Regions from separate parts of the Homo sapiens genome. Here region 1 is linked to region 2. The links come from fine-mapping of genetic effects on plasma protein levels. A gene starts in region 2. The other region holds a variant in brackets. All regions are shown on one strand. Distances are from middle to middle.

Region 1 (15,600 bases), 4.0 Mb after region 2:
CCACATTTTAGAAGAGTTCCTGACTTATGGAACATGCTAAATAAATACTGAGTCAAGTTTTCCTTCAAGACTTCTATGGCTGTATGTACAAAACATTAAAGAAAGAAATACATTTTAATAGTCATTTACTTGCTACTAGATTCAGCAGAGGAAAACTGTTAGAATAGTTATGAAATAAGGGAAATGATTATTCCACTACCCTTTCATATGACTGTAAAGATGATAAAAATAACATACCACTATAAAGGAAACTAATAAAAGATAGCTGAAGCTTGAGCAAAATAAACCATTATAGGAAGGCACACAATATGGCTGGAGATTTAGTTAGGGTGACATGTCCAAAAGGGACCATCCCTACTCTTTCATGCAGACAATAGCCAACTGTTTTGCTTGGGTCCATTCTAAAAAGCCTTCTTAATGATTAACTTCAAGTGAAAATAAATGACCATATAAAAATACATAAATGGCCATATAAAAATCTGAAAGCTCTTTACAAAGTAGGAGCATTAATATACAAATACATACAAATAGATCTATCCTATCAAAGCTTTTTTAGAAACAAAAAGTTGTCTTCCAATATGACAGGATGTGTCACTTTTCTTCTATCTTTCTTTGTATTTTCACACAGACATTATTTTAACCAATAGTTAAGAGTCTGAGTTAAACTCACCAAAACAAGAACGTTAAATCTGAAGGTGGAGTTGCCCTCTACCAATCAGGTCTCAGCAGTGGGGAGCAAACATCACCTCCAAGCAGCTAAGTTTTTCTAGATAAGCACTGGACTATCCATGGTATGTGAGGTATTTCCCTATCATTCACTCATCTGACAACCACTGTTTTTAATTTTTTGTGCCTCTATGTTTATTCATAAGACACCAGGCCAATAGTAGGAGGAATAGTTAAAAAAAAAATCTCAGCATCATCTATAAGCTTAAAGATACTTAAACTTTACAGTGTATTGACTTGATGCCCACTTTTCTTGACCATGTTTACTAATTGCTCTGCGTATATATTATTACCGTGTGCTGTAAGATAGTGGTTCTATTTTGCTGGAGCTTTAGCTGTCTTTTTATTTTTTCCTTCATGGGTAGGAATGATTTTATTTTAGCTGTCCTAGGAATAGCAGATCCGTTTCTAAAGCTCACTAGAATTTTCTTAGCTGTATGAATTATGTTTGAAACATTTAATGTGTATTTTTTAAATGCAGAGTAAAAATAGCCCACTTATTCCCCTTTCAAAAATCTCAATAAATAACAAAGGTACATTAGGCTCCAAAACAGCTTAACTGAACCATATGTGGATCCAAAGGCCTGCCAAAATGGAATCAGCATTATGAAAGATAGCTTCATATTTCATCTAGCCATAAAATAGGAACCCACAGTATATAAAATGTACAGGCCACTTGTACAGAGCTCATGATGACAGTGAATTGAACACTCATTGTCAACAGAATAAAAGTGACCTAATACATACTCTGACAGGTTTCTTGAGTTTGGATATTTTTTTTCTTTTTCTGTCTTTTTGACCTGGATTGACTAATCACAGATTATGGAGCAAATGACTTAAAACAGCATCTTGAACCTATGCCCCTATGACAGTCACAGAATTTTACCATTAAAATATTTCATTAGAAAATCTTCAAGAAGCAGCAGAAGGTTTGGCACTGAAGCCTTAGGATCCCATTAAGGGCCTCTGCCATATTCCCTAGCTCATCTAGTCCAAAACAGCACACTCCACTCCCACGGAGTCTCTCCAAAGCCATTTTGAATCCTCTTTTCCCTTATCAGGCTGATACAGACCTGCATCATCCTCGGAGCCTTCTGACAGGGGCTACAACAATTGGGGAAAGGGAGGGGGGTGATACAACGGCTCATTGTTTCCTTTCACAAAACCCTGCCACAGGGCGCAGATTAACACCAAAAAATAGATGGCTGCAACCAAAGAGAAACATTTTTCAGAATGCCTCCACTTGATTAATGAAGTAATGGAGCCGACCACTGTTTGACTTTCATCACGCACTCTTCCTCCCTCACCCCTTCTCCTCCCGGAATATCAGCAGAGGCGGGGGGACACTTGTGCACATGTCTGCCTCCTTTGAAGAGTTGTCATTTTCACAAAGTTTTGAAGAAATGCACCAAGAATAACACTGCCTAGGTTTCTTGCTGAAAATATTCAGATAAAGGACAAATTTTCTTTCCACCACTTCTGTACTTCTTTAATAAAGGCAAGTGCTATTTTTTTTTTTCCTATAGGAGCTGAATTTAACATGTACTTGGGTCCTGATGCCTATCTCAGATGCACACATGGATATAATTGGGTACCTTTAAATGCACTAATATGCTGCGTGTGCCTGGGCAGCAGTGGCTTTCAGAGGAGAGGTGGTAATGCCGCATCCGAGATTAGGATCAGAACCTGAGGGACTCTTACTGCTCCTGTCTGCGGGGTAATGCTTACACTATTACACATAGGGTAATGAGGTACAAATGGTATTTGTTTGACTTCTTAATAAAAGCTAAAACTTAAGGCACGTGACGTGCCTCTGCTCTTCCAAAACTCTGTCCCCATTTCTTCATATTTCACAGTACATCACTGTCTGCATTATGACTGCCTTATTCACTCCATTCTGTATGGAGCTCTAAAATGCCATAAATAATGAAAGAATTGAGTTAACATTTTAAAATACAAACCTAACTCAAAAGTGAATCAGACAGGGTAAATTACTTTTCCAATTGTCTGAAATCCCCAATCACACACCTGAGAAATGCTTTCTGAAGAATAACTCCCTACAAAAAGAAAACTCAAAGAAGCCAAGATCATTCAAAAGGCAGTTTGACCACTTAACCTTTCTTTCTCTTCCTAAAAATATGTGTTTTTCCTCTATGGTGACTGTCTGCTTAGATGATAAATGCACTAAGTCCATACCGTTTACTTATCTAGGCTATGAGTTCTCAGAATATTCATGCCAGCTAATCAGTAAGCATGTGTGTGTATGGATACGTGTGAGTACACGTATATGAAGCTATATTCGTATGACAACAAAACCTGCTTTTTAAAGTATGTTTAGGGAGAGAACAGAAGAGAAAAGACTAGATGCACTGCTTGGGGAATTAAAGGAATGAATCATTTACTTTCTATTCACAGGCATAATAAAAGGAATCCAGGTTTGTTTAACAATCTGTATGTTTTTCAAAGTGACTAAATGCGTATAATTTTATATAACTTTACAATTCTATGTTGTAGGGCTGGTATAATAACCCCTATTTTATAAAAGAGGAAACTAAGAGCATGTATGATTACCCAAGATAGCACATCCACTTTGAGTAATAACAGGACTAGAATCAGGCTGTTCTGACCCCATCACGGGCTCTTTCCCATACTTTCTCTCCCACTTTTGATCTTTACAGTGTGTGGGTGTATATTTCTCAAAATTACCAAAGGAGAAGAAACACTCAGCAAACTACTTTTGATCCCCAATTCCCACCAAATTTTTGTACAAATCACGTTTTGTATATTTTAATTTGTCTTTATTGCAAAATTAATATCTAAATAAATTAATCAGGAAGCCACTGATCACAGATGTGAGAAACCATAAATATTTTAATGAATAATAATAAAATATACCTCATTTTCACAAATGTCTTTTACTTATTAATCTTTGATTTTGGTTATGATGCTGTATAGCATACAGTTTTGTTGTCTGTATTCAAGTTCACTGAATTTTCTTTTGTGATTGCTCCCATGGCTCTTGGTATTTGAAAGTCCTTCCCTATCCACAGGTCAGGTTAACTACTTATGCAAATTACCTTCTGTGGCAGACAGCCTCTGAGTTGGCCCCCAGTCATCCCAGCCTTCTGGTTTCAAGCTCTGCACAATTCCCTTCCCTAGAATTCAGCAAAAGTGATAGGATGCCACTCCCATGATTAAGTTACCAAAGCACTGTGGCTTTTGTCTTGGGCTCCCTGTCCTATGCTCTCATCTGCTTGCTCAGAGGGATGCCAGCTGCCATATTGTGAGTGGCCTTAAGTAGAGGCCCACTAGGCCAAGCACTGAATCAAGAGTCATTTGAGTGAGCATGTAAGCAGATCCTCCACTAGCTGAGCCTTCAGATGACACCAAGACCTGTCTGTCCCCTTGATTGAAGCCTTGTGGGAGACATTATGCCTGCGACAAGTTGTGCTCATTATTTTTAACCATCAGAAAAGGAACTAAAGTGTATGAGAAGAAAACCACAGACCAACCTACATAACTCTATGCTTTAGTCTGGTTTCCTGCCATTAAAAAATAGAAAGTGATACAAAATGGCACAGAAGACGCTGAAATTATTAGAATCAAGAAGCCACAGTTTTGTCAAGCTGGGACAAGGGGTTTTATGAGAAAATTGAAGTAAGAGTCAATGAATAATAAAGAACAACTTTAGGCTGGGCACGGTGGCTCATGCCTGTAATCCCAGCATTTTGGGAGGCCAAGGCACGCAGATCACCTGAGGTCGGGAGTTCTTCGAGACCAGCCTGACCAACATGGAGAAATCCTGTCTCTACTAAAAATATAAAATTAGCCAGGCATAGTGATACATGCCTGTAATCCCAGCTACTCGAGAGGCTGAGGCAGGAGAGTTGCTTGAACCTGGGAGGCGGAGGTTGTGGTGAACTGAGATCACGCCACTGCACTCCAGCCTGGGGAACAACAGCAAAACTCTGTCTCAAAAAAAAAGAACAACTTTAAATTCAATATTTAAATTAACAGGCAAAAATATGTTAATCTCCAAGAGAGTTTCTCAAATAATTTCTCAAATTTCCAAAGTATGTAATAAATATTACTTTATTATTCTCTTATTAGAAATTTATGCAAGAGGCTAGGTGTGGTGGCTCACGCCTGTAATCCCAGCACTTTGGGAGGCCAAGGCAGGCGATCACAAGGTCAGGAGATCGAGACCATCCTGGCTAACACGGTGAAACCCCATCTCTACTAAAAATACAAAAAATTAGCCAGGTGTGGTGGCGTGCACCTGTGGTCCCAGCTACTCAGGAAGCTGAGGCAGGAGAATGGCATGAACCCGGGAGGTGGAGCTTGCAGTGAGATGAGATCGCACCATTGCACTCCAGCCTGGGCGACAGAGCCAGACTCCGTCTCAAAAAAAAAAAAAAAAAAAAAAGAAATTTACCCAAGAATACTTGCCCCTGGACCACCACACAGCATCAACACAGAGCTTTATAGCAGTGGCTTGGAAAGAGTCACAAACTTGCCAATGCTAGGAAAACCTTATATGATAATAAAGGTTGTCAATGCCACCTGAGAGCTACAGTTAAATTATGAAACTTGGTGAATCCCATCCTGGGAATATTTATTGAAAATTAGATTAAAACCAGAGTCCAATATGTTATCAGAGTTTGACAAAGCATTATCCCTAAGTAATTTTGATTTTTAAGACCAAACTGAAGGAGTACAAACTGGTACCTATCTCCATTCTCTCTGTTATCATCTCCAAGTTACTGAATGTATTAATTGTCATGTCAAGCTGAGATTGATGCTAAGTCCTCATAATGCTGGCACAATATTTGTTACAACCATGTAAGCATATCCTGCCAAACTAATTGTTTTGAAATCAGTATAGAATGACAATTCCTCAAAAACATCAAATAGAAAGAATTTAAAAGGCATGCCAGACCTATCAGCACATAACAGAGGACAGTTTGGTCAACTCCATGAACAACTCTTCCTCACAGTGCTTTGTTACTTCTACCTTCCCCTCCAGGGAAAACTACATTTCAAGATTGATATTTTAGAATTTGTGTTACAAAAACAATAGTTATGCTTTACAAACCACTTCCTCACTAGTCAAGATGGTGATAGATTTCCCTAGAGAGGCAGGGATGCTATATATCCACCCACTTCCACCTTAGGCCTTCATGATTCTGTTTTTGGCAAATACGAAGAAATGACAGTAGCAATGAAATCTGCATTAAGAAAATTCATGTAAGGATCCCTATGTGTGGGAACAATCACAACTCCCACAAACAGTATCTGGAGCTATAAATCAATAGTGATTCTTCATCCTTCACACCGATCCTCTGTGGGAAAAGGTTATGTGACTCATTTGTCTCAACTTTACACACATAGAGTGGATCAGCTTTGATCATCTTATGATGACATAAACAATTCCTCCTTTCAGAAATTAATTAAATTAATAGCACTAATCGTCCTAATAACTGAAAAGATCATCTTCAACAAAAGTTCTCCTTGGAGTTCTGGGAAAAGGGAACAATGAATAATCTTGTAAAAATAATTCTTTTTAAAAGTTCAAACTTGGCCTAACTAAGGGTAAATAGGTTTAGCCATATAAACCAAAGGCCAAAATGTATTAAAATTTCAGGCAGAGGAGAGTAAGTTAGGTCCATAAATAAAATTGTCTATGTATAGCAAGGAATTGTGTTTCCACCTTTCAAATCCAAGTCCAAATGTAAAGAACCTGGAAAGACTTCACCATCAGGAGAAAAAGTAAGTCAGGATGAGATTGAGGTTAACAGGCTAGCTATACACAAAAGGTATTATTTTGGAGGCAAGTAAAAATTATCAGGAAGGGCACAAATTCAGGTTTTCATTTCAATACCATTGTGCCATATGACAATGTATTTTCATCCACTGCCAACATCATAACTATATCTGCATTATAACACAGCAAATCCCTTCAGATTAATATGCAATTGACCTCTCTGGCTTCTACATATTTCAATTGTGAAATAATTCTTCGGTGTTTAATTTCTTCCTTTCTGACTCACATTCAATAGCAGGCCTTTGATTACTGAGGCCTCCACACAAACTTCTTTCTCCTCTTTCCCTGAGTAATCCCCCTCCATCAAAAAAAAAATAAATAAAAATAAAAATCAATAAAACAACAAAAACCCTACCCTAATTCTAGAAACCAAACCAACGCATCACTTTCCAAGGCTCTGCTGCATTACATTTCTTGCCTTCAAGTCTTCTTTGAGCAGCTTTTCTGTCCACTCAGTTTCCATTAATTCTCCACATAGCAGATAGAGTATAAGAGAAGCCAGGATCTTGCCCTCCCTAAGGGACAAATCTACAACCTCCATCAATAATGAATTTCACCAATGTTTCCCAAGAGGAACAGGGTACAATTAAAAAGGTTATAAGTCCTTGCACTACTAGAACCTAAGGGCGTCTGTGAATGAAACTGGCTTAAGCCCAATTAGAGGAATCAGTACATTTGTCTTCTCTTGGAACAATCTTGCTCTTACGGTTCCCATCAATTCAGTATAAATCTGACTGATCTTATCCAAGAAGTTAATAGAAAATTGCTCACAGTGGGCGACTGCCACCTCAGTTTCCAAGCAGAGACAGATGGAATTTCCCAGATGGTTTGTCACTGGAACGTGTGAGGCTGGATGAGACTTCACAGAAAGCATGGTAGAGCAGAACACCTTCTTGGCCTTCACCCATGTCATAGTGAGGGATCTAAAACTGAGTCTGTTGTAAACAAATCATAATTGCCTCACTAGGCGCAACACCTCATCCTCCTAGCTGCATCCAAGGGTTGCAAATCTTACACCGAAATTAGTCAACTTTTCTCAAGAAACCATCATGGGCATATCTCCTTATGAGATAAAAACTGAAGAAATAGACATAGTTATCTTGTCCTACTGAAGTTTCCTCTCAAACGAGACTAAAATAAAAGTGCAAGTCTATAAACAAATAAAACAGGTACAAGATAGCATTTCCTGTGGTAATTGCTCTGCTGAGTTAGGCAGATGAAGCAAGATCACAGACGAAACAGACATGGATGTAAAGCCTCAGGAAGGATGCAGGGTCTTGAATAAGGAGGGGTGTGCAGCTGTTCCTGATATGGAGAAAAGTGAAAGGAAAAAAT[T/A]AATGTGCTGATTCATTCAATGTTATTCATTGAGCTCTTAGTATAAGCTAGACATTGTTCTAAGTGGGAAGGATAGAAAGATAAAAAATAGATAATAAGCATATGGTCTGCAGGGGAGATAGACAAGCAAACAGGAGCTCACAGTTATGTGATCAGTGCTCTTATCCTAGTAAACCTAGAGCACCAGGGAAATACTCCAAGAGTGGTTATCTATTCCAGACAGGAGGCTTCAGAGAAGGTCTACCTTGGAAGTGACTTTGAGCAGAGTCTTTAAATAAGTATTGGACTTAGTGAGATGAAGAGAGATAGGTGGGGAGGGGGGAATAGGGGTTTCCAGGAGGATAAAACAGCATGACCAAATGTACGGATGTGGAAAAAAAATGGACATTCAGGGCACTGCATGTAGTTCAGAATGCCTAAAGTCTATAAGAGAGTGGAAAAGGGGTCAGAACTGGGGAGGTGAGCATCACCTGGGGAGGTGAGTAACAGGAAGGCCTTTTTTAGGCTTTACCAAAACCTTGGGGTATTCTCGTGCCCTTTAGAATGATTTTAAAGCACAGGAGTTAAGTGACTACTGTAGTTTTGCTTTCAGGACATACTGTGGTCTGAGTAAATAAAAAGATGACAAGAGAGAACAGAAGAATATTGTAATAATCAAGAGAGAAGCGGTGGGGCTTTCGACTAAAGCAGTGGTAGCAGGACAGAAAGAGGAGAACAATCATTACGAAAGCAGGAGTTATGATGCTTGGTTTCTGGACATGAAATGGAGAGTCTTGGAAGATGTTTGACTCTGAATAGAAGGAAAAAGAGATGGTAGTAGTTACAGGCAAAAGGAGAGAGGTATGGGTATGTGTAACTGTGTGTGAATAGCATTTGAGATGTGAGAAGGAGAGGTAGAAATGCAGAAAAGACACAGGATAATTGAGAGAATGGACTCCCTGCAGAGGTACGAAAGGAGAGGCAGAGGACTAGGATTAAAGGTGACTGAAAGCTGGAAGTCATGGAAAAGAGAGGCTGTCTGTGGAGACAGGAATAAACTCTCTTTGTGACTGTGTAGTTGGAGGAATTAAATGGGAAAGCTTGCAAAACAGTTGAAATGTGCTATTAGAGAAAGGGTAAAAAGCCAAGGTTAGAGATTTTTTTATTTAAATGTCATTTGTAAATTAGTAGCTGAAGCTTTGCAAGTGGATAAGCTCCCTGAGGCACTGGGAACAGAGGGAGAAGAGAAGAAAGGCCAGAAGTGTTTTGGGAAACACTCACAGTTAAATTAAAAAGAGCTAAGACCCAGAGAGATATGAGAAATAGGAAAGTATGGTAGTCCTGAGCCCAGATTAAAATGAATATTAAGAAGGAAGATATCATTCACAATGTCAACATCAATGAAATCTGAGGCTCAACAAAAAGTCATGCCTCAGCAAAATTATAAATTATGCCATTGAGATGGGAAAGATGGAGAATATGGGTGGAGTCAGTGAGAATGTTCCTGATAAGCAAATTCAATTCGATTAGATTTTTATTTTAAAGAGCAGTTATTGAATACCGATTATGTACCAGTAGTAGAGGTCCAAAATTGAATAATAAAGATTAAATAATTCTATGTCCTCTAGAATCTCAATAATAATTTGGATATTGCTTTTAAATTTATTTCATTATTACATCTTAGAGGCTGTCTTAGTATGGATTCCCCAGAGGCTTACCCTGAGACTGATTCAAATACAAGTAGTTTACTGGGAAGTTGATCCCAGAAAATTCCAGTAAGGTTGTGGCGAAGTAAGCAGGAAAGGGAAGAGGTCCACAAAATGTTCACTATCAAGGCAATCAGAGCTCAATTCCACTGCCAAACTCTAACAGACAATATAGAACACATCTTATATCCTAACCAAGAGGAAGGGAAGCGGAGGTGTTAGTCCACCAACTTTCTGTCCATCATTGGTTGAGGATAACCTTTGGGAATAGGAAATCTCCAGCACTTCCAGCTTTCCCAGCTTGCAAGGAGTTTGCTCTTAACGCTGGAAAAAAGTGCTCAGGTAGAAAAGTCACAGGTGTGCCCACTGAGCAGCCTTTGCCTATAGAGGTGAATGCTGGAGACATAGGTAGAGATATATTTGCTACAGGATATGTACAATATGAAGCTTGAAGACTAGCAATTATTAAGATAAAAGATGAATACTGGAAAAGATAAAACTGCAAAGGGATAAATGGAGGCAATTAATAATTCTAATTATAAGCAGGTAGATCAGGAACTTCTAATTTTTTCCTTAACCACATTTCTATAAAGATGACTATCTTAAAACTTTTAAGATGCAATTTGATACATGCATTATTTCATTATTAGGTCAACAAAATATCTATAGTGCCCTTTATATGTATATTTCATTTTTTTAAAAAAAATTCAGTATCACAAATACCCTGTGGGAAAATAATACATTTTATTCTGATTGAACAGAATAAAATGAGATTTCTCTGTCAAATTTCATTTGTTGAATTTAACAGGTTGCGATGAGTTTACTATTATGTTGTAAGTAATCTGGGGCTTTCTATTTAATTAACTATGTATGTTGTATGATTCCAGCAGTTGGCTGAATCCAATCAGAATAGTTAGCTATCAACAGTTGATAATATTTAAAAGCAAGAGAGGGCAAACGCCATTTAAATTTCAGACACCCAACCTTCCAAGTAATCACTGTTGCTTGATACTTGCTAAGCACTACCACGTGCTAGCACAGCTGAGATTTAGTTTATTGCAAGGATCTTTGTCCTTGGGAGAATATGGGGAAAATCTTCAAAGGTACAACATATAAACATAGATGTTCTAAAACACATCCAAACCAGATATTGATCAGAACTTAAGGTGATTTTTAAAATTTCTTCCTCATCAGTAGTCCTTTGATTTTTTTTCAGTGAATAAAACTGCAAAACTTTCAAAAACACCAAGTTTGTGCTACCATGATAGTATTTAATATAAGTTATTTCTGAGATATGAGGTGAGATGCTGGAAAGAAAGCTGGGCTCCCTCACTGGTATCAATTTTTTCAGGGGTATAAGGTCATACCTCAAAAAACTGAAACTTGCAAGGTAGTGCAGACCTTCGGAGCCTGTGATGGTTCATTTTAATTGCCAACTCACAGGGCGTTTCTGAATGAAATTAACATTTAAATCAGTGAACTCTGGGTAAAACAGACTGCCCTCCAAAATATGAATGGGCCTCACCCAATCAACTGAAAGCCCGAATAGACCAAAAAGACTGGCCTCCCTGCAGACGAGGAAATATCCCAAAGACCGCTATCGAACTTCATCTGCACCACTGGCTCTCCCGGGTATCTCATCTGACTGAGTACTGCAGATTTTGTACTTCCCAGCCGTCATAACTGGACAAGCCAATTCCTTATAACAAATCTCTGGCTATATACGTACACATCCTGTTGTTCTGTTTCTCTGGAGAATCCTAAGACAGAGCCCTTGGCAAACAGTCAAATTTAGGCATGTAAAAATCCCCTAACGCCAAGGTTTATAGTGTTACTTGTTTAATTTAAAGAGTGCTTTTTGCTTTAAAGTTGAAAGATTTCAATGGGTTCACTTCCACAGATTACTGACTAGTAAAAGTAGTTGAAATGTGTGGATAACTCACATATGCTATCTCATTTAGTCCAAAATTCCTATAAGCTAGGCAGTATTATTATTACCACATCACAGAAAACATTTCTAAGACTGGAGCATGTGTTATGGAATCAGACTGAGTTGACCTTAGGCTAGTTATTTAACTTCCCAAAGTAGCAGTTTACGCCTCTGCAACAAAGGAGATAAATATTATCTTCTCTTGCACTTGTGTAAGAAGTAAATATGATATAAAACATGTAAAGCACTTTGACCAGTATCTGGCCCAATGAAAGTATTTACTATGCTGCTGCTGCTATTATAAAACTTTTAAAGCATGAAGTATCTACCAAGATAATAAGGTGTGGACAAAAGATACTCTATTTCTATGTTCAGTGTGTTATATAATTCCAAGAACAACTTTTTGTCAAACTAATTTGTTTGGTGTTTCTGTGTTTTTTAAAATGTTCTATATACATCTAAATGCCTGGTCTGCAAAGGCTTCCTGCAGAAGGTGGCATATTGCTAATGTACTTGAAGATGGGGACTTGAAAGATATAAAAAGGATTTGACATCTGGCATGGTGACTCAATTAATTACTGTGTTGGATTAATTAGTGAGCTGAATCTCCCGAGCCAACACCATGAGTTTGAGCAGAGTAACATTACATCAGTTGGCGAATAAGCAATTTAAGAGAGTGCGCTAATCCAAATTTGATTCAAGGTTGGGTAGGGAAGGGGTAGTAGGCTATATATTTTATTATAAGGAATATTTATGATTTCAAATACATATTATAGTACTGTCCAAATTATGAGAGGTAACAAAACTCCAGAAGTCTTTGAATTAACTTTTAACTGCTCAAGTAGTCTAATTACATAATAAATATTTTGCCCATCGGGGAAAAAAAGGTATATTTCTAATTTTTGCATACTTCCTCCCAGAGATTTTTATAAATTTATGATTCATGTTAAGAAATCATCAACAATTTTATCATGCTCAAATCATGTTACAGATGTTATACTGAGAATGCAGTGTGGCAGAGTCTTTAAAAAAGCAGACTCTCGAATCAGAAGTGAGAATTTTTATTTTCTTATCTGTAAAATATGATTTATGATAGAACCAAATTCACAGGTTTTTTGGAGGACTAAATGAGCTAATCTATTTCCATTTTTCAGACATATATGTTAACCAATTTGATGTACAGTAGTAACAGTAGTAGGAATAATAATACTAGTAGTATTTAATGATATAAACTCAGAAGTAAATTTTGGAAGAGGATGTTATTTCAAAAGAAAAACATTTGAAAATATATTTTAGTGAGGCAACTAAATTTTAAAATAAGGAAAAATGCTGTATTTTAACTAAATAAAATAATCTGATATTTAAAGCCTAAGACAAAAGAAGAAAACTGAAGTATTAAAATTGTTTTCTATAAATAATAATCACCCATTACCCAATTGTTGATAAACTTAAGAGTAGTCATGTTTTAAATAGTATCAAAAATTCTGAAAATTTCATATAAGTTAACGCCTTTTAAAAATATTAAATATGGCATAAAATAGCTTTACAGTCATATAGAACTATTAAAATAGCAAAATGACATCAACTGTCTAAAATCAGAAATTATTTCAATGAAAAATAAAAAAATCAAACTTTCTCAGACAGGTTTATCTTCTATCCATCACGATTTAGCATATGGTAAAAATGTCATAAAACTACCATTCTGTATACATACAGAGAGTAATAGCAAGATTAATCAAAAATAGCATTTTAGTAAATATATCCTTTTAATATAGTAAACTGGAAAATGTTCATCTTGCATGTCAACTATAGCTGATACAGTGTCAGTACACTTTTGAAGAAATATACAAATGATTAAAGGTTGCATTGGTATCTGATACACTGTGATAAATAAGATAAATATGATATAGTTTAAAATGTTTAGTAAGCAATGCTAGAAGACAAACAGAAACTCCCAGATAAAATAAGTTCAGAATAGCATTTAATTCAATCTTTGATGTTTAGACAATCCTTCTCTTGCCTTTCTTAACATTCATTAGCTTGAGAAATGGGCACAGTTAATATTGCTCTCTGAAAGGAATCAATAAAACAATCTGTTAATACAACTCAATCAACTGAGGCCTGCATTTTGTGGCTACATCACAAATCTCTTTTGAAGTAGCTGCACTGGTCCACCTAGAACAAATTGCCCAGAATATTAAATATTTGGTCTGGACTGTAAGGTCAACTTGTTTGGTCCTTAAATGTATGTGAAAACCCCTACTTCATCCTTTTATGGATAAATACATGAATGTACAAAGTAATAAATATACCCCTGGGATCTCATGCACTCTTTAAAAGTTTGGTAACACAAATATTTCCTATTTATTCTAATCATTACTTTTAGTTGAACCAACAACCTCTGTCACATCCACATGGTACTGAATAAACGGAGATCCACATGTATCAATTTCTTTCATGTAATAACTTGAAGAAGGGATTTCCTTCATGTAATAAATCAAAAAAGGAATGTAATGTTGCTGAACCCAGTACACCTGTCGAAACCCCTCTGGGAGTTCTTATGTCCCTTTAGCATAGATAGGGTCATTTAAAAGTCACAAGACTGTTCCTACATAAATGGCATTTAGAGAGAAGGACTTTCAGGGGAATAAATACTTATAAAATTTCTGGATCCTCTAAGGAATATGAAACATTTTTCTTCCCAAATTTCATCACCTGTGTTATCACTTATTATAAGAGAGGTTTTCAGCTATTGTTTTTCTTTTATCCCATGTGGTAGGCAGAATAGCTCCTTGCAAAGATGTTTACATCCTGACCTCTAGAACTTGCGAACATTCCTTTGCATGGCAAAGAGAAATGAAGGAAGCAAATGGAATTGAGAGTGTTAATCAGCTGACCTTAAAATAGAGAAATTAGCTTAGACGACCCAGGCAGACACAGTGTAATCATAAGCATCCTTAAATGTGTAAGAGGGAAGCAGAAGAGTCAGAGATGGAATGTGGACGTGCGAAAGACACCATCAGGCCCTGGTGGCTTTGAAGATGGAAGGGGGTCTATGAGGGAAGGGCCACGGGCAGCCCTCAGAAACTGGAAAAGGAAGAAAACAGATTCTCCTATAAAGCATCCGAAAAGGAGTTCAGACCTGCAGACACCTTGATTTTAGCCCAGTGACACCCAATTTGGATTTCTGACTTCCATAACTGCAAGATAATAAGTTTATGTTGTTTTAAGGCACAAAGTTTGTGGTGAGTTGCTGAGGCAGGAATAGCAAACTTATATATCCAATTAAGAAATAAAGTTTAAATGTAACCAAACTACCTACCTTTCCATTTATTTATTTATTTATTTATTTATTTATTTATTTATTTATTATTTTGAGATGGAGTCTTGCTCTGTCACCCAGGCTGGAATGCAATGGCACGATCTTGGATCACTGCAGACTCTGCCTTCTGGGTTCAAGCAATTCTCCTGCCTCAGCCTCCCGAGTAGCTGGGACTACAGGCACCCGCCACCATGTCTGGCTAATTTTTTTTTGTATTTTTAGTAAAGATGGGTTTCGCCATGTTTGGCCAAGCTGGTCTCGAACTCCTGACCTCAAGTGATCCACCTGCCTCAGCCTCCCAAAGTGCTGGGATTACAAGAGTGAGCCACTGTGCCCAGCCTCCATTACTTTTAAAACATCTAATTAATCAATAATCCACATAATCATGGCAAGAGATAGACTTTCTGTTCTCAGAACTTTTACAAAAAAGCTGAATAACAAAAATTATAATGCTGACCACTCATCCCTGCTTTTAAAGGTACAAACAGTATTACCAAGGAAAAACAAAGTTGTTTATTTCTTGTTCTTCATGAAAACCTGTAATGGATGACAATTTGTGTCATCTGAAAAATAAAGGCAATTTTATATATTACTAAATGTGAACAGTCTTGGTCTGGCTAAGCAGATAAAGCAATAACCTTACATATTACCTTACTAGCCACAATTTAGTATGAGTAACCTGTTTCTGTCTAAATTCTGCGTATATTACTGTCAGACACAAACCACTTGAAAAGTATCCAAGTTTTGCTGTCCACGAAAAAGCAAAAACAAATGGTTA
Region 2 (14,184 bases):
AAACACATAAAAAATAAGAACAAAACAAAATCAGAAAGCCAGAAAAACATACTTAACTCTCATAGTATCTGATCTTGATTGCTCTGTAAAGGCATCATTGCCAATTTCTTCTAAGGAAAGGCAAAACGCACACTAGTCTTTTCTATTTCTAGGGTCAGAAGGGGCTTGTAGGCTATTAAGGTACAAAGACAGGGCTCTAAAATGTTACCTTAGCAATACTCAAGTAGTTTTGTACATATGGAGGCTGTCTCTCCATATAAGCTGAAAGATTTACTGAATGCCTAACCTGGAAGTGGCCTACTAATTGACAGGATGAAAAGAACAGTGACTGTTAAAAAAAAAAAAAAAAAAAAAAAAAAAAAAAGAACCAGAATATTAAAAATTGTACTCGAGTTATTTAAATACTTCTGTCAAAAACATCCCAACCAGTGGTTTACTCAAGTTCAAATCATGCAACAATGCTGACTCCTCCTTTCTTTCTCCTTACACCTAATTGCCAAAAAGACCCTATTCAATTTCCCAGTACTGCCCATATTCTTTCCTATTTCCACTGTAATCTATCTAGCATAAGCCTTTACTACCTCTTGCTGGAGTACTGTAAAGTCTTCTTAATTCTAGTATTTTACTCTTCCCAAGAAACAACATTTTTTATTTTGTATTATGGTTATTTCTATACCTTACTTTGCCCTGTACAACCCTTCTCTAGAGTATTTTATTCATTTGGTACCTTCAGTTACCATTTGCAAAGTAAGACTTGAAAAAAAAGTTTGATTGCTTCATTATGAGTAGAATGATCTGAAAAATTATGATGGTGAACAATCACTTCATTTAAAGCTGATTTGTCAAGAACAAAACTCTCAATCAAAAGAAAACTTTCTCAAATGAAAATTAGCCTAAATTTTCTGAAAAATTATAAGAAAAAAGAGCCAGAAAAGAGACTACAGAACGTGTGGTACTTGGCAGGGAAGGAAATAGAATCAAGGAGATACTCTATCAGTATGTTGTGAAGAAAAATGATATTTACCATTTGGGACTGTCAGTTTTAGGATATACATGAATAAAAGTTGAGAATAAATTTCATAAACTGCCCTAGTAACCACAGCCATCACCTTTCCAAATATTGTTAGTGTCATTGTTTTATAAATATTTGCCAACTTGAATAACTTCAATGCTAACTGGAGGTAAAATTTAAAGGTTGTTTTTTTTTTCCCAATAAAAAATAGAAACTGGGTCTTTTAGTGATTACAGAATAGAATTCTCTCCCTAGCAATCAAGAATATCCTCATTCTGCAGAAAACTTCCTTTTGTGATTAATAAAAGAGGAGAACTGATACTCATTGACTGTCTACTATGAACCATGCACTATCAAAATGTTAACACACAACTCAAAAAGCCATCTTATGACATAGATACTATTGTCCTTGTTTCATTGAATTAAACACAGAGTAAGCACATCCAGTGACTCCATTCAAACCTAGGTATATTTAATTCAAAAGCCAAGAACATCTCATGAACAAGGAACATTCTTAATAATTCAGTGATACTACCACTTCCAAGATAAATTTTCCAACCAGTTGCACTAAAATAGGGAAAATGCGATCAAGCCACACTTTGATTTTATCAATCACACTGACTGGCAGGCAGGAATATCCTTTGAGACCTGTATTTACTTAATGTCCCTATTCATCTAAATGAATATATATTAGCACCTACTATGTTTCAGTCGCTACTTTGGATTTGGAAGCTGGGAAATACTACCAACTCCGCATGGGGAAACTCTGCGTTCACTCCCAGTTGTCATGAGCTTGCCCATAAACTTATCCCTGAGGAATGCAAGAAACTAAGGAGGCAGGACGTCCATCAGTCTTGCTCATTCTGGTATTTATAGGTCTCAGTCAAAGCCGGGCACATAGTAGGTACTCAAATATTTGTTGAATGGAAGGAAACTAACATTCCTTGAGCACTTGAACGCTCAAGACAATGTTCGATCACCTCACTGGAATCCTAAGGACAACCAAAAGAGGTAGGTTTTTCACTACTCCCGTTTAATAGATGAGGTTGACAGACTTAGATTCACTTACCCAGGATTTAAAGGGACTGACCCGAAAGCCCAAGGCTCTCCCTACATCATATCCTACTTAAGAAACCTTTTAATTGTGTGCACATTGCCTCAGTGCGATTTTTGAAATGCCCTCTAGATCACCAATTTGATAAGTATCTTACGCTACTTTACACTTTAGTTGCTTTAAAACACTTTCTAGAACGGAACAATGTTAATATAATCTAATCTTAACATTAAATTTCCTTAAAAATTACAAAGACAAAAATTTGAGGTATATCAGAATGAGATTCAAAACTATGAGGCAATGTATCCTCATTAAGGCTTTTTGAAGAAATGACAACTCTAGGAAATCAAGAATGAGAGCTCTGCCATGTTAACGGAAAAAAAATACAATTAAAAAAAGAATGCTACATTAGAAACTGATAGATCAAATGTATTATATCTTTTCTTGTTGAAATTCTCGGTAAACTGCTAGAGGTCCTTTCAAGTAGCCTCAATACATCACAATTCACAAAACAAGCAAAGCCAAAATCTATGTTCGGTACATACTAAACAGGTGCTGTATTTCTAAAACTCTATTTACGAATCTTTTCATACCAAAATTTGAAAACCATATGATCTAGTACAGTCCAGAATATCCTCAAACTATAACTCTCTGAAGTGGGTTAGAAAATATTACAAAGCTCCCAAAATAAAATTTACCTGAACTCACTTAAATTTGATAAATAAAGGTTTGAGCAGCGGCCCGTAAGAGAAGGGGAAACAGAAGCGGAGTGTGAGAGCTGGTAGTAAAATCGAACATTCTGTGCCATGTCTGGCAACCGAGAGTCAGGCCCTCAAGTATGTGACACCACTGGGGCGGTTCCGAAGGCGGAGTAAGGTCTCCAGAATAACTCAAAAGGAAAGAGTTTCATAACTTAAGTGGTTTCATTTCAGATTACCCACGTGAAATTTGTTGATGAAAAAAAAATCATACCCACTGCACAGATGAGAAAAACAGGAGCGTTTTCAGGTTATACAAGCCGACGCCTGGCGCCCGGCGTGACGTGAAACGCTCTAAGTTGCTGGAGCTGGATACCAGGTGAACTGAGATTTAAATTGTGGAAAAATCGGCCTGGAGAGGTACAAGGCCTGTAGACGGAGGGCAGTAAGGTCACGCAAATTTCCCTGAGGAAGGCGGCTTTGGAGGCTGCGTGCTTTCCGGGCCGGTACCCCACAGCCCAGTCTCCCACGCGTGAGCGGAGCATGGCGAATGCTGCACGCCTGGGTCCCGCTCCCAGTCGCAGTTTCCTCACCCCAGAGGTCACCCTGACCCGGAAACAGTACCCAGAGCAGCTGTCGGGCGTCGAGGGAGGTCTGGTGGAAGGGCGAAAGGAAGGTGGGAGGGCGGGAAGTGCGCGGCTAGGCGGAGGGCCGACGGCGAAGGGCAGACAATGCCCCAGAGGCTAGGGCTGGGGTCGGGATGGGGGTAGGGAGAGGAAAGCCCCTCCCAGGCACGCGCGAACCGCACACACTCACCTGCCCCTCCCCCTCCCCGCCCGCCCGGCGGAGGCTCCGAGCTGCCGCGGGCCGCGCGCGCACACAAGGCGCGCTCACGCGCGCTGCCTGTCTCTTCCTCGAGCTCGCGCTCCGCCCGCTCACTCCCAGCCCCGCTCATTCAAAGCCGGGCGCGCGCTCCGTAGCAGCCTGCGTTGCCTCTGCGCAGCTGCCATGGCCGCCCCTTCATCGGGAAACCCGCCCCCAGCCCCTCCTCTAGCCCCGCCCCCAGCCCTCCTTGAAGGCGGCTCTCGGCTGTCTCCAGGCCCTCGCTTCTGCACTCCGCCTCAGGTCCTGGCTGGCCCAATAGGTGAGAGGCTACGGGTCTGACGTCGAGACTGGGAGCCAATGAGCCCTGGGAGCGGGGCAAGCGGCGACAGGCACGCCAGGTTCGGTGAGGGGTAGCTTTTTGGGACTATTGCGAGCTGCTTTGACTGTTTATTCTCGGAGCGCCTGCTTCTGCCAGATGTCCCTACTTTCCTTCTATGCAGAGTGCCTCCCCTCCAGCAAAGTCCCTTTCTGTTCAACCCACAGAACCCCTGTGTCAGATGCGACCAAGGAAAATACACTGCAACAAATGAGGGATCTCCCTCTGTCTCAGGAAGATTTGGATGTGGCTAGACAGACCCCCTCCCCTCAGTCATTCCGCCACCTCAAAGATGTGGAATGCTGAGTTTAATTCAAGACGTAGCCTCCTCCCAGTAATTTTTAATTGAATTGTGTTGAACTAGAAATGAAGAAGTGGCACTTCACCGTGTCCATGCATTTGTTCCTCACATGCACCCTGGACTTGCCCTTCTTTCAACCTGAGATGTTCTTTCCTTCAGTGCTTCTCTCTTTGCAGCCTGATTCTTCTTTTTATCTTGTATGCTATGAAAGGGGTTGTTATGTGCAGGGGACCCTCAGAATACTATGCTCCACAGTTGCAAAGTGACTGGTGAGGGAGAAGTGAATAGGGTCTAAGGCCAAAATCAGTTTATGCAAATTGTTCTCAACAAGCCTTTTTCTTTATATGCCTTTAATTTTTTTTTTTATTACAGCTGCCTTTGTTCTCCCACCCTGACCCAGCAACCACCTACCCACTTAACTTTGTGATAATCTACCACAACCGTCCTCTTTCCAATTTGCACCACGTTTTTTATTAATAATTTAATTTCCAAGACGGGAAAGATGTGTTTATGGCTCGTGCTCTGGAATGGTTCTGTGTAAAGTTGGGTAAAATTATTTAATCTGTTCACCTCAATTTCCTCATCAGTAAAATGGCCATAATAGTGCCTACTTCATGCAGTAGTAATGCTTGCAAAGCTCTCTTAGCACAGAGCCTGGCACATAGCAAACATTCATAGATAACAGTTGTTGCTGCAGCTACTACTACTACTGCATTACTATTGCATTACTACAGTATCATTTCCGGTAATTGCATTTCCCAAAGGCCATGCAACCCCTTTCAGTCCCTTAAACACCTGCTCTAACTTTAATCTCTAGAATTCTAATGCCTAAATTTCAATATAAAATTTCTAAATTTTTTTTGGATTTAAAAAATCGAGTTATCTAGCTGGGCACGGTAACTCATGCCTGTAATCTCAGCACTTTGGGAGGCCGAGGCAGGAGGAACGCTTGAGCCCAGGAATTTAAGACCAGCCCAGGCAACGGGCGAAACTCCGTTTCTACAAATAATTTAAAAATTAGCCAGGTTTGGTGGCGCATGCCTGTAGTCCCAGCTACTCAGAAGGCTGAGGTGGGAAGAATCACCTGAGCCTGGGAGGTCGAGACTACAGTGAGCCATGATTGGGCCCTGCACTCCAGCCTGGGAGACAGAGCAGGACCCTGACTCAAAAAAAAAAAAAAAAAAAATCCAAAATAACCTATATTCGGATATAAACGTGTTTAAATTTTTTTTCTTAAAGAGTTGATTGCTTTAGACAATTTATTATGCCCAAGGATATTTTCTTCTTTTTCCTGATTCTTCAGTTTTCTTTATTAAATTTGCCATTTCCAAATGAAACAAAACGAAATGTATATACTTTTCCAGAAACAGCTAGTTACTGAGTACTTGTTTCCCAACACAATAGCAAAACAGAAAACAAAGCTCGCTAAAGACTGCAAATTTAAAATTTACTTTAGTAATACCTATAAAATAATATTTTAAAATCATCTTTACTTGTTAAATAGTAAGCCCATAATTGGGATCACAAGTCAATAATTTGGGATTGGGTTTAGGGACCACCTCTTGGGAACAGGGAACTTTAAGTCCTGTCCTCTCCCCAAAGCTTGTGTGGGACGGGGGTAGGAAACCACCAGATGTCAAATGGGAGGAACATAAGGGATAGAACCTGGCATATGAATTTCTTTTACTCAATGGAATATAGTAAATTCTGTCTGCTCTGTGTCCAAACCATTTTGCTCACTTTAACGCTTCTGATCAGCCTCTGCCCAATTACCAGCTTGATTTATTCACACTATCAACCTCCAGCCCACCACTTACTCTCCCCTTTCAAAGCCTACATAGGCTTTGTTCTGACTTCTCCAGCTGGGGCTAACTCTGGCCTTGTCACCTGACCTGGCCCAGGAGGTAGGAGCAGACTGCAAACACAGCCCTCTGCTTCCAGATCTTTCCCAACCCAGTTCCCTGGCTTTTCATCAAAGGGTGGGTTTTTTTTCCCTCAAACACAATTTTAGACCTGCTGTTCTGACTTGGACTTTAATGGCTTTTTATTAATGAGCAGCTGTTCACAGTTGAATACAAGATCATAAAGTCACATTCATTTCTTGATCAAGTAAAACAAAGCTTTGCCGCACATAGAGTGACATCTTTGAGCAGATACATTTGAAAGCATAGGATTTTCTGATGAGAATTTTAATGAATTGTTTTATTAATCTTCCTACTGGAGAATTTTACTTGCTTTCAAAATAATAAACATTAATATTCTGGAAAATTATAACTTCTTTTTTAATACTCAAAATCACCATATACTAGTTAGGGTCAATTGCCTAATAGAGAAATCAAACAGTCTGAAGCAGATTTTTTATTTCTTTTCTATTAAATGAAAATTAACTTTCTATGAAGCATTTAAATAAATTTTTCCTCATAATTGTTATTACAATTAGCAGTAACTTTTATTGCTAAATACAGGAAGATTCAAAATTTAGTAACAATTTAGAGTTAACCAGTTTTCTTCAGAAGGGGCCTGGTTAGAAATCAAGAAAAATAATACATATATTTTAGTAGAAATAAATTCAAATGAAAAGATGAGGTGAATTCTCATTTTGTGTTCAGTGGTGAGGTTCAGCCACATCATACTTCTGGCTAATGTCCACATCGTTATTAGATTTATGACAGAGTTCAGCTATATTATGAATTAAGTAGAGTTGATGGGAACAGCATCTGGCAGTCTAAGACCTTTTGTTATTTCTAACAGTAAATGTATTGAAATTCATACAACCAACATAAAACAGTAGTTTGTAAATCTATCTTGTACATGGATTGAGAAAGTAGAAATAAAACAACATGAAACAATGTGAGACTCATTCATTGAGCTACAGCATGATGGACATCGTGACTTTGACCTTGAACAACTTTAAGCCTCAGTTTTCTCATCTGCAAAATTAGGTTAGTAATTCCTGCTTTACGGATTTATTTTGCAAATTAAATATCATACCATATGTGGAAATGTGTTGGAAACACAGCAATAAAATCGGTGAAACCTTTGAAGCAGGCAGATTTGTTATCTTCAAGATCAGTACAATCCCCTTTAGCTCACAACATGGAATAGTGCTTCCAAGAAATAGAGGTGAATTTTATGTCATCAGCAACCAGAAGTAGACATGTCTACTAGCAATATATTAACAAAGGGAAACAGGGAGGGACAGCCAGAAGTCAACCCTCCATACCCCCGCTTCTACCTTCTTTGTTCCCTTCTTTGTTCCCTTTGTTTTAAAGGCATAGGATGAAAGAGCAGCTGTCAGAACTATGACACTTACAATCCTTCCCCTCTCTCTCCAGGCTTTTATGTACTACTCATGGGATATTTATTTCATACCAAGATCTGTTGCCAAGTTTTGTCTATTCTTTCTTCTCAGTGTCCATCATTTCAGCACATCTGGATATCAAAATGATCTGCTAACTTAGTCTTTTGTATTTTACTATTTTCCTTCCTCTAAGTCAGTTTGTTACTTTGCTGTCTGATTAATATAAATATTGTTACACCTTCTTCATAGTAACTGACCTTTTTAAATTTTCCAGTGTCTAATTCAAATTCACTTAGGAGGATATGTGTCTTGATTGTTGCTTTTTAAACTCTTAATTTTGAATTGTTTGTTTGGGGATCTCCCTCTAACCACCCATGCCCTTTAAGACATACCAGAAATTCTTGTTAAAGGAGTTGGTCTATGTATACTGTACATTTCATACAGTGAAAATTAATTTAAATCTATATTTTGTACGTAGTTCTTATTTGAAATTAAATCCTTTAAGGATTACTTTCACTTGAAAATTGAACTCATAATCATACTAGAAATTTTTGATGTGAAAAACTTAATAAATTTATTTTCTTCCTAAGAATTTATAGCGTTTACATATATAAAGGATCATCTGCCTAAATGCATAAGTTACTGTAATGAAAAACCAAAGGAAAATACTATTGCCATGTAGCCAGGCACAGTCATAAATATCTTGCACAAAAGGAATTTTTTTTTTTTGCTCATAGGCACAGAGCCCATTACCATAGCAACTATAATTACTCAGTCTATAACTGGGTGTGAATTTTATACACTGCTACTTCAAACATTAAGGCTGTAAGTCAGGATAAAGTGCAGTTTCTGTAATATTTTTAAAAGATTTCTTAATCTCAAAAAGCAGGATAGGAAAAGTTTCATCATGCTACCCAATCATTGGTTTATCAGAAAGTTTATTTAACACTTACCATGGGCAGAGTGTGTGCTAAGCACTTTAGAGAAATTGAAAGAATACATAGTCCTTAACCTAAAAAAAAAACCTCTAATAAAGTCACATTCATGGGTGAATGGCGTTCTTAGAACAGTTTCTCCATGACCATCTTTCTAATTTCAGAATGATGGAATTATAATAACTACAGTACTGTATTAGGACTTGCAAGTACGGCAACAAGAGGTTTGTAGCTGGTTAGACTGCCCACAAGTATTCAAGTACCTACTGTGTCCCCTGTGGCAGACTTTTCCTATTTGGTCTTACACAGTGTGTCTGTAGCTACTCTCTGGGGAGGGGAAATTGGGGGAATAAATCTTAATATTTCTTTCACTGGAGACTGAACACTCCTTGCAGCTACTACCATAATGGGGAAGCTGAAAATGCCCACTGATGATCTTAGAAAAAGGGCAAGACTCTCCCACTGTTTTGGTAGGTTCCCCAACCCAACCCAACACATAATGGATTCAGATTAAAGTTTTTTGGGTTTTTTTTTTTGAGATGTGTCTCGCTCTGTCACCCAGGCTGGAGTGCAGTGGCGAGATCTCAGCTCACTGCAAGCTCCGCCTCCTGGGTTCACACCATTCTCCTGCCTCAGCCTCCCGACTAGCTGAGACTACAGGTGCCCGCCACCATGCCTGGCTAATTTTTTTGTATTTTTAGTAGAGACAGGATTTCACTGTGTTAGCCAGGATAGTCTCGATCTCCTGACCTCGTGATCCGCCTGCCTTGGCCTCCCAGAGTGCTGGGATTACAGGCGTGAGCCACTGCGCCTAGCCTCAGATTAAAGTTGAAGCATTTCCATTCGGGAGGGTATAGTAGTAACTCAAAGATGCATGTGGTATTTTAACCTTGGCATTGTCCACCTTTCCCATTAGGAAGGATTAACTCTCTGTTCTCTTGATCCTTCCAAATTTTGCCATCTCAGACATCTGATGAAAGCAGGAGATTTAGGATAACCACCAAATAACAATGAAACCCTAAAGGAGCAAGGGCTGGTATAGGGCACCACAATGTCAGGAACCCAAACTCCTTTCAGCTGAGCTCTCTGGGTTCTGGAAGAGGTATAAAAATATTCTTCACACAAGGACATTGTAAAAGCCATAAAATTGTCCACCATCTTAGTCTTTTCTTACCTAAAGTTTTAATTCAATCCACTGGAATTTTTTTTTTGTCAAGATTTTTCTGTAGATTTTTAGTAAGGAGATTTTCTAACACAAGTTATGGAGCAATAAAAGGCACTGGCCTTTATCCTCCAGGTCTCAGGAGCCATCTTGCTCCATGTAGCTGGAAAAACAGAAAGGGATGAAGAAAAGGCAAAGGGATGCATAATAGCTATGTTTTAAGGTCAGTTTCTAGAATATGCCACGAGATAATGTCTGTTTTTGTAACCCACTGCACAGAAATTGATCAGTCTCACTGCAAGTGAAGCTGGGAAATTGTCTTTGTTCTAGGTGGCCCAGTGCCCAGCCAATAATTCTAATAATTAGCACTCACATGGTGCTTATTACATGCCAGGCACTGTTCCAGTGTAATAAGAAGCCTAATGGTTTACTGGGCCAGGGATTGACATGATATAGGCCACATTATGGAAATAAAAACAAGAGTGGCTATCATTTTACCGCCTGTTAGGCACTGTGTTACATGTCATATATATGATACCATCAGTCTTCAGATGTCACACTTTCCACATTTTACAGTTGAAGAAACTGAGAATAATGGAAACTAAGAACTTGCCTGAGGGCATAGAAGTGGTAAAGTAGAAACCAAGAATTTGAACAGGAATTTGGATTAAAAACTCTTCCCAATGAAGCACTTGCCCATGCTTGAGGAAAAGTGGGAAGCAATTAAATGTTGGAATTTGGGCTCTGGAGTTAAATTGTCTGTGTTTGAATCCCAGCTTTACCATTAGTAGCTCTGTGAACTTGGGAATTTAACCTAACCCTTCAACATTTCAAGTTTCCTCATTTGGAGAAGGGAATAAGGTTATCCTCATAGGATTGCTGTAAGGAAAGGGTCCATGTAGAACACACAGCATAGTGTCTGGCATGTAGTGAACATGTGATAAACCTTTACTTTATTATTGATTATTGTTATTATTAGTGCTAGGGATATTTTAAATAGCACTTTTGGGGATAAAATGGATAAAAGGTAAAAACAGATGGACCATCTAGAAGTCATTGCAATGATCACAAGGTGATGGAATTTAGGAATGAGTAGAGACAGTAGTACAAGATATAAACATTTCACTTACTATGAGAAATACAAGAAGCTATTCTTATTAACTTTTTATTCTCTGTTTCTTACTTTGACCAAAATTGGAACAACATATTTACTTCGCCAACATTTCAGGTCTTAGGTAGAAGAATATTCACACATCAAAGGATTTTTATGACTTGTTCAAGAGCTAGATAGCCACTTCTTACAATACAAATTATTTTTAAGAATTTAAACATCAATTTCTGAGACAGAATGTTCAGAGAAATATTATTTAAATGCAAAAAAAAAGCAAAAATAAAACTTGCTTAGCATATGAATAAGGGACATGTGAAGATGTATTGCCCATGGATTCCAATAATTCAAGCATTTTTAAAAGTAGTAATTAAATTGTAATTTATCTGGAATAAGGAATTATTATGATAATTCTAGAATGTTCTTAAAAAGCAGACAGCCAGAAGCCTAAAGCAGTTAAAACAGGAACTTTTTAACAAAGTCTGTGTGGCTAAGAAGCAATTTTTAGAAATTCCTTTTACTGCCATATAACTTGTATTAGAAAATTTCCTTATTAAAAACTGACAGAAAAAATCTTGACAAAAAACTCCAGTGGGCTGAATTAAACCTTTAGGTAAGAAAAGAATACAGATGGTGGACAATTTTATGGCTTTTACAATGTTCTGGTGTGAAGAATATTTTTGTATCTCTTCCAGAACCCAAATGTAGGAATTTGTTCCATAGATGCTGGAATTGCAGTTTTTGGAATTTAGTTTTCCAACAGAAAGGAAGTATCACGGAATGAACAGTAAACTAGATTTGCCTTAGGAAGACTGATTTTTAAGTCTCAGCGTGAAATGGCCCATGTTGGGTCTCTTTCCCCCTCCCTATCCCAGGAACAGAGGTTTTTCACCCCACCAGGGTTGGAACTGAGGGGAGTATAAAAGTGCTCTGTTACCTGGTGCTGTACAATGAAGTATCAATGCTCTCTGGACATGGCAAATGTTCCTCATGAAGGGGCTTTCATGTATACTTTGAAGACTACCTTGTCAGGGACCTCTTACCTGCAATTCCCTTAAAATTGTGACTATTTCCATTCCAGCTGTTCATTTGAATTTTTTCTGTAGCCCCTAGGCCTTCAGTGGTCCTCTCCCAGTTTTCTTCCACTGCTCTTCTAGGTAGCCCTCCTGAACAAGGCTTAAGGCCTCCATATTGCTAGCAACCTCATGCTTTCTCTCTCTCTCTATCTATCTCTCTCTCCCCCTCCCTCTCTGTCTCTGTCTCTATCTCTCTGTCTTTCTCTGTCTCTCTCTCCCTGAGACAGTGATCATGTTGTATTGAAATGGTCTGTTTCCATTCTTTCCCCAAATATCCTGAAAACTCTTCGAGGGAAGGCATAGCATCTTATTTCTTGTAGCCTTCCTACTTACTAGAACACCCAACAGATACTGCTCAAGTGAATGAAATGCCACATTTATACCAAGATATTTGATTTTACTACCTGGTAAGTGTTTATACATTTTCTGCTAAGTAAGACTAACAATGATCTGAGGTGAATGTACTAGGAGATGTTATACAAGAGACAACGGTATGGGCTTTGTTGAATTCTCTCAGCTGTCCCAAATGTTTGCTGAGTGTCACTTGCTGGAAGGCTCTGGATCTGGCTACAATGTCTTTATTAGGAGTTCTGTCAAATTAAGTATTCCCTTTAGAATTTTCTGAGTAAAGAATTGCTATTTTCAATACTGTTAGAGAGTTCGGTTAACTTAGCTACCTTAGTCTGTAGCTTTTTTGCATTCTCTAATTTATCTTCTTGAAAATAAGTTCTGTTCTGTTGTTGACTTCCCACACTTTATACTTCATTCATCCAGTAAACAGTGAATAAGCATCCACCAGTTAAGGGAACCCCTCAACCCTCAACTCATGCCCGGGGTTGAGGGGAGTCCTGCTCTTAGTAGTGGCAGTTTTGAGTGGGAAGGAGGGGTAGGCAGAGAAGGAGTTTGGACTTGTTCCAAAAGTTCATTCCAAGGACAAGAAAACTTTTCCCAATATTGGCCAGAGTTGGGCAGATCCAGAAATACAGGACAGTCTAGAATTCCTGGGATTACTGTGAATCTGAAAGACAGGAACTCAGTGTGAAAAATCTGAGATGAGATTGTCATCTCAGATTGTGTGAAGACAATCTCGTCTCTCCAAAATCCTTAGAAACTAGAATGGCTTAGATTATTGGAAATCAAAACCTTGTAAATGGATAGAGAAAATAAGAACCCCCCCCCTCAAGTATTAAAAAGAATACTTAAAATGCTTCCAATCTGATGTAAAGAGCTTAAGTCGGAACTAGACAAGCTCTTTCCATTATTTAAAGGATTCTATGATTTGTTGGTACAATAACTTAGAGGTGTCATATCTACTTCCAAATGACAAATTTCTGGAAGTTTATTGAAATGAAATAAAAACATATAAATATAAAGAATCAAAACAAATTTATATTTTGAAGAAATCTGATTTTAGTGTTTAAAGCTAATTAGTACATTTTATATATCATAAAAATATTTTTAGTATATTTTCATGAAAATGCTATAGACTTTTGCCTATTGCCCAACAAAGTAGCTAATAATTCTTATATTTTTGTTTCAGCCTATTCTTCGGAACAGCACTTTAGTAGCTTCCTGAAAAATGGAAACAATACAAAACAATTTTTAAGTAGAAATAGCATATAGTATAATTTAAAATATATTTCATTAATTTTAACTTTTCTCATTTTTATGGTACAGTTAGCAGTATTTCCAAGTTTACCCATTTAATGTTAGAATCAGTAATGGTTTTTTTGTAGAAACTTATAGATTGTGGTGCTTATACAAGATTGTTTTATTTTTTATTTTTCACATTCAAAAATACACATTTAAAATATAAGGTCTTTTATTTAGTGAAACTTCATGATCCTCTTAAAAGTAATATATTATTCATTCAGAATGCAAAGTTATTAAAGAACCCAGCATTTTAATCCATTAATGGTGTTTAAATTTCTTATATTCTAATTGAAAAATGGTAGTTTATTTAGTAGCAAAGAAGAAGCCATTGATTAATCTTCTTATCTGGAAAAGTTCCTGGAAAAAACTCAGGAGCTATATGATTTACTAATTCTTTGAGAATAGAATTATATTAATTTGGTAAAGTACCAAAGTTGTCAGGAGTAAGCAGGATGAGAGTCTATAAAGGTTTTTGCACTTAATGAGGCAATGCAAAATGCACAAATATATATTGAGCAATATTTAGCCAATTAGACCTTATATTTTAATGCTTCTGAGAAAAAAATAAAATTAATTAAAGAAATGCTTGTCATCCTATTATAAAATAAACAATTGGTCTTACTTTTATTACTATTCTGGAGACAAGAAAACTGGCATAAAAATAACATAAACCCCCTTGTCTA

Direction of the effects. Positions count from the first base shown, and alleles are read on the strand shown. Strength reflects both the effect of a copy and how common the allele is.
For the plasma level of the protein whose gene starts at base 3,327 in region 2, A is the low allele of the variant in region 1 and T is the other (weak association).

Evidence for each region. PIP is the chance, under the fine-mapping model, that this variant and not a neighbour inherited with it causes the effect. The UK Biobank Pharma Proteomics Project read protein levels with antibody pairs (Olink). The fine-mapping took linkage between variants from a reference panel, not from the people measured, so its PIPs are less certain.
Region 1: its variant is fine-mapped to the plasma level of the EBAG9 protein (UK Biobank, PIP 0.92).

The regions. Positions count from the first base shown.
Region 1 is chr8:105,561,586-105,577,185 of GRCh38, reverse strand. All of the region lies in intron 4 of ZFPM2 (zinc finger protein, FOG family member 2), which reads right to left. Among named protein-coding and RNA genes, the nearest start is that of ZFPM2, 250 kb to the right of the region's middle. The variant T/A (reference allele first, on the strand shown) is at 7,886.
Region 2 is chr8:109,529,316-109,543,499 of GRCh38, reverse strand. It overlaps EBAG9 (estrogen receptor binding site associated antigen 9), which reads right to left and starts at 3,327. Exons shown (of 7, transcript NM_004215.5): 1 at 3,039-3,327. It overlaps PKHD1L1 (PKHD1 like 1), which reads right to left. Exons shown (of 78, transcript NM_177531.6): 78 at 6,293-13,420. The coding sequence ends at 13,410. EBAG9UORF reads right to left here and starts at 3,774. Exons shown (of 1, transcript NM_001436381.1): 1 at 3,700-3,774. The coding sequence starts at 3,774. The coding sequence ends at 3,700. RefSeq lists an enhancer at 2,959-3,318 and a silencer at 3,379-3,928.